Regions from separate parts of the Homo sapiens genome. Here region 2 is linked to region 1. The links come from fine-mapping of genetic effects on gene expression. A gene starts in region 1. The other region holds a variant in brackets. All regions are shown on one strand. Distances are between the middles of the regions. Region 1 holds the start of DLK2 (delta like non-canonical Notch ligand 2). Region 2 overlaps ZNF318 (zinc finger protein 318).

What was found. PIP is the estimated chance that this variant, and not a neighbour inherited with it, causes the effect.
Region 2: its variant is the best candidate, but not a certain one, in a credible set for the expression of DLK2 in whole blood (INTERVAL, PIP 0.52).

What each region holds. Positions count from the first base shown.
Region 1 is chr6:43,453,143-43,458,512 of GRCh38, reverse strand. It overlaps DLK2 (delta like non-canonical Notch ligand 2), which reads left to right and starts at 2,965. Exons shown (of 6, transcript NM_023932.4): 1 at 2,965-3,118; 2 at 3,633-3,763; 3 at 4,039-4,102. The coding sequence starts at 3,688. RefSeq lists enhancers at 1,467-2,308, 3,937-3,986 and silencers at 2,907-3,146, 3,247-3,296, 3,327-3,406.
Region 2 is chr6:43,358,961-43,364,330 of GRCh38, reverse strand. The region is part of intron 2 of ZNF318 (zinc finger protein 318); the gene reads left to right. It also overlaps the pseudogene RPS2P28. Among named protein-coding and RNA genes, the nearest start is that of ZNF318, 8.0 kb to the left of the region's middle. The variant G/T (reference allele first, on the strand shown) is at 3,041.

The sequences.
Region 1 (5,370 bases):
TGACTCATGCCTGTAACCCTAGCACTTTGGGAGGCCAAGGCCGGTGGACCACTTGGGGTCACTTCGAGACTAGCCGGGCCAACATGGCGAAACCCCGTCTCTACTGAAAATGCAAAAATTAACTGGGCAGGCCGAGGGCAGTGGCTCACGCCTGTGATCCCAGCACTTTGGGAGGCCAAGCGGGCAGATGACCTGAGGTCAGGAGTTGTAAACCAGCCTGGCCAACATGGCGAAACCCTGTCTCCACTACAAATACAAAAATTAGCCTGGCTTGGTGGGGGCGCGCCTGTAATCCCAGCTACTCGGGAGGCTGAGGCAGAAGAATTGCTTGAACCCGGGAGGCGGAGGTTGCAGTGAGCCAAGATGGAGCCATTGCACTTCAGCCTGGGTGACAGAGCGAGACCCTGTCTCAAAAAAAAAAAAAAAAAAAAAGAGTTAATTAAACAAACAGAATTTTAAAAAAATTTATTGAATACCTACTATGCCAGGCATTGTTTTAGACACTGGGGATGCTGTGATGAGCAAGAAAACATCCCAGACCTCTGGAGTTTGCTTTGTAGTGGGGAGATGGTCAATAAACAATAAATATTTAATATAATGTCAGATAATGATATCTGACAGAGAAAAGCACTGAAAGTCTCGAGAAAAAAAAATTAGCTGGGCGTGGTGGCGCTGTGCCTGCAATTCCAGCTATACTGGAGGCTGAGACGAGGTTGTACTGAGCTGAGGTTGCACTACTGCACTCCAGCCTGGGCGACAGAGTGATAATCTCAAGGAAAAACAAACAAACAACAACAAAAAACAAGTTATAGATGTTCATTGTTTAAAAAAAAAAAAAAAGGGGCGGGCGCGGTGGCTCACGCCTGTAATCCCAGCACTTTGGGAGGTCGAGGCGGGCGGATCACGAGGTCAGGAAATCAAGACCATCCTGGCTACCATGGTGAAACCCCGTCTTTACTAAAAATACAAAAAAAAATTAGCCGGGCGGGGTGGTGGGCGCCTGTAGTCCCAGCTACTTGGGACGTTGAGGCAGGAGAATGGCGTGAACCTGGGAGGCGGAGCTTGCAGAGAGCCGAGATAGCGCCACTGCACTCCAGCTTGGGCCACAAAGCGAGACTCCGTCTCAAAAAAAAAAAAAAAAAAAAAAAAAAAAGTGTTAATGCTGAAAAGTATTAATAAGAAAAAAAAAAAAACCTCTATAATTCGATCATCCAGAGAAAAGCACTGCCAATGTCAAAGTACGTTCTTCTTTGTTTCCGGCTTCCCCCCACCGCACTTTACATATTCTTAGCTTTTTTGGACATCTTTAGACGTCAAAAAAAAAAAAAAGTATTTTTAACAGTCACATAGTGTTGATGTGCCATAATTTATTTGCCTACAGTAATTTTTGAATTATAGGTTGTTTGCAATTTTTCACCAAAAAAAAAAATGTGTTTAAACAAAATGAATGGTACAGCCATGTCATTACTCAAATTCAGAGAGCTCTTCAGGGAAGAGGCGATCACAGCTGAGAGGAGGCCAGCTAGGGAGCTGAGTGGGTGTAAGTGTTATATCCAATGGAGACTGCAGGAAAAATGAGCCCTGGGGCTCTGTGCCTGTGGAGGTGGCTGTGTGAAGGTGGGAAGCTGCTCTGCCCCGACTAGCGACTGCTCCTTCCGATGTTTTGAATTTAAAGATGGTGAAATCTCAATCTGAAGGACTAGAGATGGGCGCTAGCGTTCCTGACCTCTGCCCTGTTGTCCTGCACAAACTAGAAATTATGTTCTGGGTCCTTGTCTTTTTTTGGGGGGGGGCGGGGGTCGGAGTTTTGCTCTGTCCCCCAAGCTGGAGTGCAGTGGCGCGATCTTGGCTAACTGCAACGTCTGCCTCCCGGGTTTTCAAGCGATTTTCCTGCCTCAGCCTTCCGAGTAGCTGGGATTACAGGCGCGCACCACCACGCCTGGCTAATTTCTGTATTTTTAATAGAGACGGGTTTCACCATGTTGGCCAGGCTGGTCTCGAACTCCTGACCTCAGGTGATCCGCCCGCCTCAGCCTCCCAAAGTGCTGGAATTATAGGCGTGAGCCCACCGAGCTTGGCTGGGTCCTTGTCTTGAAATGTGTCTCTGAGCCATTAGCCAGAAGGGGGCAAAGAGGCCTGGAGGGCAGCTTTCCCCCACTCCCCCTCCGTTACTCTCTGAATCTGAGCTCCAGGTTTGGGCAGTTGAGGTTTAGCCTGAGGCCAAGGACGAACGTGATGGGGTACAGGAGAAGACTTGGCGGTGGAGGGGGTTTTGTGTGCACATTTACAGAGTCAGGGGCATTCCCAGTCCAGAAAGGATTCTCAGAGGCAGTCACAAAAAGGAATGGGGTGGAAGGGCTGAGACTTGAGGGAGGGAAGGGTGGTGGGGGTAGGGCCGGGGTGTGGTTGGGTGGATCGGGTTGATATTTATATAGGGATAGGTTGATCTTGGAAGGCTGGAGACGGCAACGTGGACAGGAAGAAGCGGAGGGCGAGGAGGAGCAGAGGAGCACACAGATGAAGCAGGTGATGAAGGCTTTACAAGCGGGGAGGCGTGGGCTGGTGACAGGCGGAGGGCGGGGAGCGATTGCCTGCGTGTGCATAGATCTATATGAGAAGCGTGATGAGCGGCGGACAAGCGAAGGCAGGGCTGGGGCGTGGGCCGCGGAGCGCTGGTCGGGAAAGTGGGCATGGGAGATGAGAGAATAACGGGGTTGCGCTCCTTTGGCTTAATAGTTTGCTCCCATTGAGACTCCTAAGATTTCCTCCTCTCTTGGAAGGAAGCTGGGTTCGGGGCGTTGGGTAGCCGCGGAGGGCCGGGGCCCCGGGGCGCGCCGGGTGCTAGGTGTGCGCCGTGCGTCGCGGGGGGGGGGATGGGGGTGGGGGCGGGCTCCGCCCCTGGCAGGGGGCCTGAGCGCGCGCGAGGAGCAGCCGCTGCCGCCGCTCGGGGTCGCCTGGAGCCCCAGATTCCCGAGCGCTCGGCTCGCATGGCAGCCGCTTCGGCGCCCGGCCCCGCGGCCAGCTAGGGGCGGCCCCGCGCTCCCTCACGGCCCCTCGGCGGCGCCCGTCGGATCCGGCCTCTCTCTGCGCCCCGGGGCGCGCCACCTCCCCGCCGGAGGTGAGGACTGCGGGGACAGGGCGCGGTGGGGATTCCAGGCCCCGCGCCGCCGCCGAACCCAGCGCGGCGGAGATAGAAAGGGGACGTGGGAGAGAGTGGTGGTGGCGGGGGGGGGGGCTGTCGGAGCTGTGGGGCGGAGACTGCTCGCTGCCGGGAACCGTCCTTCCCTCCGGCCCCCGCGTCCCCTCCGTGCTCGAGGCCGCCTCTCGGCGCTGTCCCCATCCCGCGGACCCCTCCGTCCTGACTACGATCCCAACCCCAGCCATTCCCGCGCCTGGCCTCGCTCCGCGATGCCCATCTTTCCCCTCCTTGCAGACCCCGCTCCCGGGTTCCTGTCTTCGCTCTCCTCGCTCTCTTCGCCTGCTCAACCCTTCCCTGCCCCCATCCTCCCGCTACCCCCATCCCCTTCTTCTGTCCCGGCGCCCCTCTCCCTCGTCGGCTCCTGTCACTTGGAACCCGTATCCGTGCCGCTATCTCCGCGTCCGGCCGCCTCCCAACCGGTGCCGTCCCACAGGTGTCCACGCGTCCGGCCGTCCATCCGTCCGTCCCTCCTGGGGCCGGCGCTGACCATGCCCAGCGGCTGCCGCTGCCTGCATCTCGTGTGCCTGTTGTGCATTCTGGGGGCTCCCGGTCAGCCTGTCCGAGGTGAGCGCGCCCGCTGGGCTCCAGTCGCGGCCCTGTCCAGCCGTCCTCGCTTGCACGTTGACCTCTGCCGGCCGGAGGCGGCACTGCAGTCGCTCCGACCCGCGGGGCAAGCAAGACCGAGGTTGCCTTTTTGGAATGGGATGAGTTTCTGTGTTATGTCCTGCCCTAGGGTTGAGTCCGCTCAGTTACTGGAACCCCAATCCTCTCCTGAGTCCCGCATCCCAGCGAGCTGTGCCCTGACTCAGACTCACCCCTCCCACATCAATCTCTTGCAGCCGATGACTGCAGCTCCCACTGTGACCTGGCCCACGGCTGCTGTGCACCTGACGGCTCCTGCAGGTACCTGTCCTGAGCACGTGCCCCCAAACCCTTTGGTACCCATTTCTAAGCCCTTCACGTGCACAACAGTGTCTAGGGGCTTCAGACTCTACTCTTCATGCCTCATCACTCCTATGGCTGACTGGCCAGTCCCCCTTTCCCCTTTACCTCACCTCTCTTGCTTCTTCTAGTTTTTATCTCCCCACTTCTTTAATCTCCCAAGTCTGATCCAGGGATTGTCTGAACTCCTGACAGGGAGAGAGACCTAAAGCTTGAGAGAGCTTGGGGATTGGGTGCCATGAGGAAATGGAAAGATAAAGGAAAAAGGGAAAGAGAAATGGTTTAGCCTGGAAAAGAAATGCTGCAGGGAGAGTTGCTGGGGAGAAACACTTACAATGAAAGAGGATCTTTCTTGATGAGTTTGAGTAGTTGACTCACTGGGAGATTGGGCAAATTCTGTAGCAGGAGGAAAGTGGACATAAGGAAATGAGTTGATGAGGCAGGTAGTTCAATTGGCTGGGGGTCTTTGAGACTCTTCACCCCTGGAGGGCTTTTAAAATATGGGTCAAGTGTTTGCCCTGGAATCATGGTGGGAGGATAGTCCTGATGACCTTTTTTGTTTTTATTTTTATTTTTTGTTTTTGAGACAGAGTCTCGCTTTGTTGCCAAGGCTGGAGTGCAGTGGCGCGATCTCAGCTCACTGCAGCCTCTGCCTCTTGTGTTCAAGTTCCCCTGCCTCAGCCTCCTCAATAATGGATTACAGATGCACACCACCATGCCCGGGTAATTTTTTGTATTTTTTGTAGAGACGGGGTTTCACCCAGTTGGCCAGGCTGGTCTTGAACTCCTGACCTCAAGTGATCCACCTGCCTCGACCTCCCAAAGTGCTGGGATTACAGGCGTGAGCAACCACGCCCCGGCCCTGATGGCCTTTCAAGGTCATTCTTCTTTAAATGTTTGTGAGCACCTCAGACATGCCAGGAGGGGTACTGGAGGCATTTACAGACATCTTATTTCTTCCTCTACTCAACCCTGCAAGGTGTATCCCCAATTTACAGGTGAGAAAACTGAGGCTCAGGTTAAAGTACAGAACCAGGGTTTGAGTGCTGGTGTCTGATGGTCTGATTCCGTATATGTGTCCTATGACCCTGCACAGTCCTACACCTACCTGGGACAGGTCTGCTTTCCCTTAGGGGCTGTCATATGTCCTCTTGGTTTCTAGAAGCTCTGGTTCTGTCTCCTCCATTTCTTCACATCCATGACCCAGAGCCCTGACCCTGTGCTTCTCC
Region 2 (5,370 bases), 94 kb after region 1:
AGGCTTAATTCACTTTATATTTCTTGTATAAAAACCCTATGTTGTAGCCACAGCTGGAGCCTACGTCCTCTGCACAGAGACTCTGGTGTGTGTCTTGATGAGGTGGTCAGTGAATTCCTGATAGGGAGACTTGGTGAATCCTGTCTCCTTCCAGAGGTCGGGGGTCAGGTAGCTGTAGGTCTTAGAGATGGCATCAAAGGTGGCCTTGGCGAAGTTGCCCAGGGTGGCAGTGCAGCCCCTGGCTGAGGTGTAGCAGTCATCAATACCAGCCATCATGAGCAGCTTCTTGGGCACGGGCTGAGACGATGCCAGTGCCCTTGGGCGCAGGGATGAGGTGCACCAGCACAGAGCCGCAGTAGCCTGTCACCTTGCAAGGAACGGTGTGGGGCTTGTGGATCTTGTTCCCCCAGTAGCCTCTGTGCACAGGGAGAATGGAGAGCTTGGCCAGGATGATGGCCCCGCAGGTGGCAGTGGCCACCTCCTTGGAGCACTTAACACCCAGACCGACGTGGCCATTGTAGTCCCCGATGGCAACAAACGCCTTGAACCTTTTCAACTGGCCAGTGTGGGTCTGCTTCTGCACTGGCATAATCTTCAACACCTCATCCTTGAGAGAGGCCCCCAGGAAAAAGTCAGTGATCTCAGATTCCTTGATGGGCAGGAAGAAGAGGTAGTTCTCCAGGGACTTGATCTTTATGTCCTTAACCAAGCAGCCCAGCTTGGTGACAGGCATCCACTCCTTATCCTTGGCCTTGCCTCCACGAGCTCCGTGGCCTCAGCCCTGTCCACAGCTGCAACCCCAGCCCCTCCATGGAAGCCACCACGGTTTCCCATCCCAGGGCCCCCGGGGCCTCTGCCCCCGCCCCACCCCCTCCACCGACATCATCTGCCATTTGGTGTTTTCTCAGAGAAGAAGCAAGGCAAAATAGTCTTATGTCATATAACATTGAAGCTTCTAAAGGGCTTCAAGATATGTGACTGTATCACTTAATTGAGGCAATAGCCCTTGCTCTTCTGGCTGCTTCTGTTTGGGGAAATTATTGAGTAGGTAGTCTGGGTAGGTGGTACATAGTGTGATTGTCTTCATTCTTTGCTGAGGTTTTGAGTTAGCTTCAGCAGTTCTTCTTAGGCCTAGGATGTCACTTCCCCTTTGCATAAACTTTGTTATGCACATGTGCTTCAGATAGAACTAATTATATTTTTAAATTACAAAAATTAAAATTTTTCCTCTTAAGGAGTTTGGGGCAGCAGTCTTCTTTGTAGAATCATGTGTTTCAGAGGCACAGGTCTACTTTAGAGAAAGTGAGATTAAGGTTCTAAACAAAGATACAAGGCCATTTAAAAAATACTGTTGCCCCCTACACATTTCTCTTCTTTCCCTTTTGTTCAGTATGGTTTGTGTGGATAATTACTGTCCACTAAAACCAGGCCACAGGACCATTGGCATACTCAGGTTGTCTCCTGACAGTGAGTCTAGTCTTCAACCAATGATACAGGCCATTTATATCCTTTGTATGTAGATGTTTGGGCCTGGCGCAGTGGCTCATACCTGTAATCCCAGCACTTTGGGAGGCTGAGGTGGGCCAATCACTTGAGGTCAGGAGTTCGAGACCATCCTGGCCAACATGATGAGATCCTGTCTCTACCAAAAATACAAAAATTACCCAGTGGTGGCGCATGCCTGTAGTCTTAGCTACTCCAGAGGCTGAGGCAGGAGAAGCTTGAACCTGGGAGGCAGAGTTTGCAGTGAGCCCAGATTGTGCCACTGCACAGAACAAGACTCTGTCTCAAAAAAAAAAAAAAAAAAAAAAAGACGTGTATGTAGATGTTTATTTTTTAAAAATTCATTTATTTTTTTATTTTTATTTATTTATTTTTTGAGACAGAGTCTTGCACTGTTGCCTGGCTGGAGTGCAATGCTGCAATCTCGGCTCACTGCAACCTCCGCCTCCCAGGTTCTAGCAATTCTCCTGCCTCAGCCTCCTGAGTAGCTGGGATTACAGGTGCGGACTACCATGCCAGGCTAATTTTTTGTATTTTTAGTAGAGATGCGGTTTCTTTGGCCAGGCTGGTCTCGAACTGACCTCGTGATCCGTCCACCTTGGCCTCCCAAAGTGCTGGGATTACAGGTGTGAGCCACCGCGCCTGGCCCCTTTTAAATTTATTTTTAAGAGACAGGGTCTCACTCTTGTCACCCAGGCTGGAGTGCAGTGGCACGATCATAGCTTAGTGTAGCCTCTAACTCCTGGGTTCAAGTGATTCTCCTGCCTCAGCCTCCCAAGTAGCTAGGAATACAGGCACACACCACCCGACGCCCAGCTAATTTTTCAAATTTTTGTAGAGATGGGGTTCTCACTGTGTTGCCTAGGCTGGTTTCAAACTCCTGAGCTCAAGTGACCCTCCTGCCTCAGCCTCCCAAAGTGATGGGATTGCAGGCATGAGCCACCATGCCTGGCCAGATGTTTGTTTATTTTTTTTCTGAGACTCTAGTAGTCTTTCTCTTCCTTTATTGAATCTGTTAAGTTTTATATCAGGTTTGGATGATAGCCAAGTTGGGTTTTAGTGTCTTCACCTTAGCAGCCCTGTATGTAGGACTGTAATTCTACTCAAAAGGGAACATGAAAGGTAATGTGAAAAATTCTAAAACACTTGGCTTCTAAAGACTTGTGGATGTTAGGTTGATTTCTCCTGTTCATCAAAGTAATTTGCACATTTAATGTTCCATTCATGGAGCTATTTATTTAAAAAAAATTATTAACTTTTTAAAAGACAATGTCTTGCTCTGTTGCCCAGCCTGGAGTGCAGTGGCGTGATCATAGTTCACTGTAACCTCAAACTCCTGGGCTCAAGTGGTCCTCCCAGCTCAGTCTAAAGAGTAGCTAGGACTATGGGCTGCACTGCCACACCTGGTGAATTAAAAAATAAATTTTTAGAAATTGGGTTTCTATCTATCTGTGTTGTCCAGGCTAGTCTCCTGACCCCAAGCAATCCTTCTGCCCTGGCCTCTCCAAGTGCTAAGATTACAGGTGTGAGCCATTGT[G/T]CCCAGCTTATCGCCTAATTTCTTCTCCTTATTCTGACAGATTGAAGGAGTGGGATTTTTTTCCCTCTGATTTTCTTTAGGGAATAGAAGCAAACAGCTTTCTTGGGGCATTTTTGGGACTCATCAACAGAAAAGAATGGAGAGTTTAGGCTCTGAAGGACCTTTTAAAATATGTATACATTTTTAACAGCTTTATCGAGATGTAATTTGTATACTATATAATTCACCCATTTGAAGTGTACAGTTCAGTGATTTTTCGCATATTCAGAGTTGTGCATCCCTCACTACAATCAATTTTAGAACATTTTTATTACACCAGAAAGAAGCTCTGTTCCTTTAGCCATTACTCCCTCCACCCTACCCCCAGCCATAGGCAATCACTAATCTACTTTCTGTCTCTATAGATTTGCCCGTTCTGGACATTTCATATAAATAGAATCATATAATATGTGGTCTTTTGTGACTGGCTTCTTTCACTTAGCATATTTTTTTTTAAGGTTCATCCGTGTTTGTAGCATTCCTTTTTATTGCTGATAATATTTTATTGTATGGATATACCATGTTTTGTTTATCCATTCATCAGTGGTGAATGAATGGATAACATTTTGATTCTTTTCACTTTTTGGCAATTATGATTAATGCTGCTCTGAACATTGGTATAAAAGTTTTTATATGGACATACATACATTTTTTAAAAACTTGTTTAACAGAGATTTGTAAACACAAAAATGTAGAATAGTACAGTGAAACCCCATGTCCTTATTACCTAACTCCAACAATCAGTTTTTTTAAATAGATAGACTTTATTTTAGAAAACAGTTGAACTTAACCAAGGCTTTCCGGGAGTATCCATCGCTGGACTCTTTCAGGGTATAGGAGATTGTACCCTTTTTAGGGTTCTTACTACAGCCAGTTCTCTTCTCATATCCTTTTGGAGTCCTGGGGAAGGAGGACATGAGCTTCTAATAAGCAACCTGATTTCTGCCTATATGTATGTGATAGCTTTTTTAAGAAAACTGTTTTTATGCCTTTTTTCTGTCTCTACTGGAGATTCCAAGTCTGGACTACAGCTTTTTGAGAGCCATCTCATTTGTAGCTTCTTGATAGTTAGTACTGGTTTAGACCTTGGGCTAGTATGCCGTTTCATGGTGACATGTAATAGTTCTGGTGGGGAGCTGAATGTGGGAGTGTGAATGAACTTGCCACTCCTCATGGAGCCTATGTTTTTTCTCCCTATACTAATATGGTCAGAGACTTTTTGTATGGTAGATGGTGTTTTGGCAATGGAGTGACTCAACTCATGAACATTCCTCTCTGGAAATAGGTGTGTTTATGGCTGACAGACCTATAGAGAAAAATTTTTACCTCAGTTTGATTTCAGAAATCATCCTTGGTTTATTCCCATTTATTCCTATTTCATACTGCATTGAAACCTCAAAATTTCCCAAATTCTTAGGAAGAAGGTGGGTAACAGAAACCTGGATTCCCACAGGTGGCATTCTTGTTAGAGAAGGTAAATAAAGTTTGTCCTTGATAACCTTTCATAAATTTATTCCTAGGTCTACAACTTTGATCAAAGGCAGGCTGGTGAATAAGAAAAGGCAATGTTTTGAGATTCTGCTGGCATAGTCTCAGAGATAGGAAAGCAACTACTAAAAAAACTAAGGAAAAGTCATTTCTAGAAACTCACAACAAAAGTAGCTACTAGAAACTGTAGAAGACACTAATAGTTACCATCCTCTAGATGATAATTCACTCTGGAATGTGAGTGACATGTAAGAACTTTTATTTTTTATTCAGAGTACTTAGAAGTTTTCATACATAAAGTGCTAGAGGATCTTTATTTCTATCTGTGATTTAAATCAGAAACTTTAGTTTTGTGTCATAGCCATAGCCCCTGAGAAGGTTAGCATTATTGGGTGTGGTATAGAATTCTCAGCTAAAAGAATAGCTGTCCCATCCTGGATTTTTACCTCATGCCACAAAGGTCTGAGACCTTTGTATTTAATGAAATAAAAATATATGGTGAACCAAACCATCACTTTCTCTTTTCTAAGCCCAAGATTAGCAGAGTGCTTGTAGATATCCAGAGAAGGCAAAGAGGGTGACAAAACAGGCTGTGAGAGAGCTTTATGGGTTTTAATATGTGAACCATCAAGGCAAAGCATTGGAGAACCTTCTAAATCTTATGAGAAAATCATGCTAATTAGATAAATCAGTAGTTTTTTTAAAAGTTACCATATAGTGATACTTTTTTTTCCCAATTGAATTATTAGAACCTTAATATACAGACTTAAAGTTGGAATTAGTGTGATTTAACTGGGATAGAA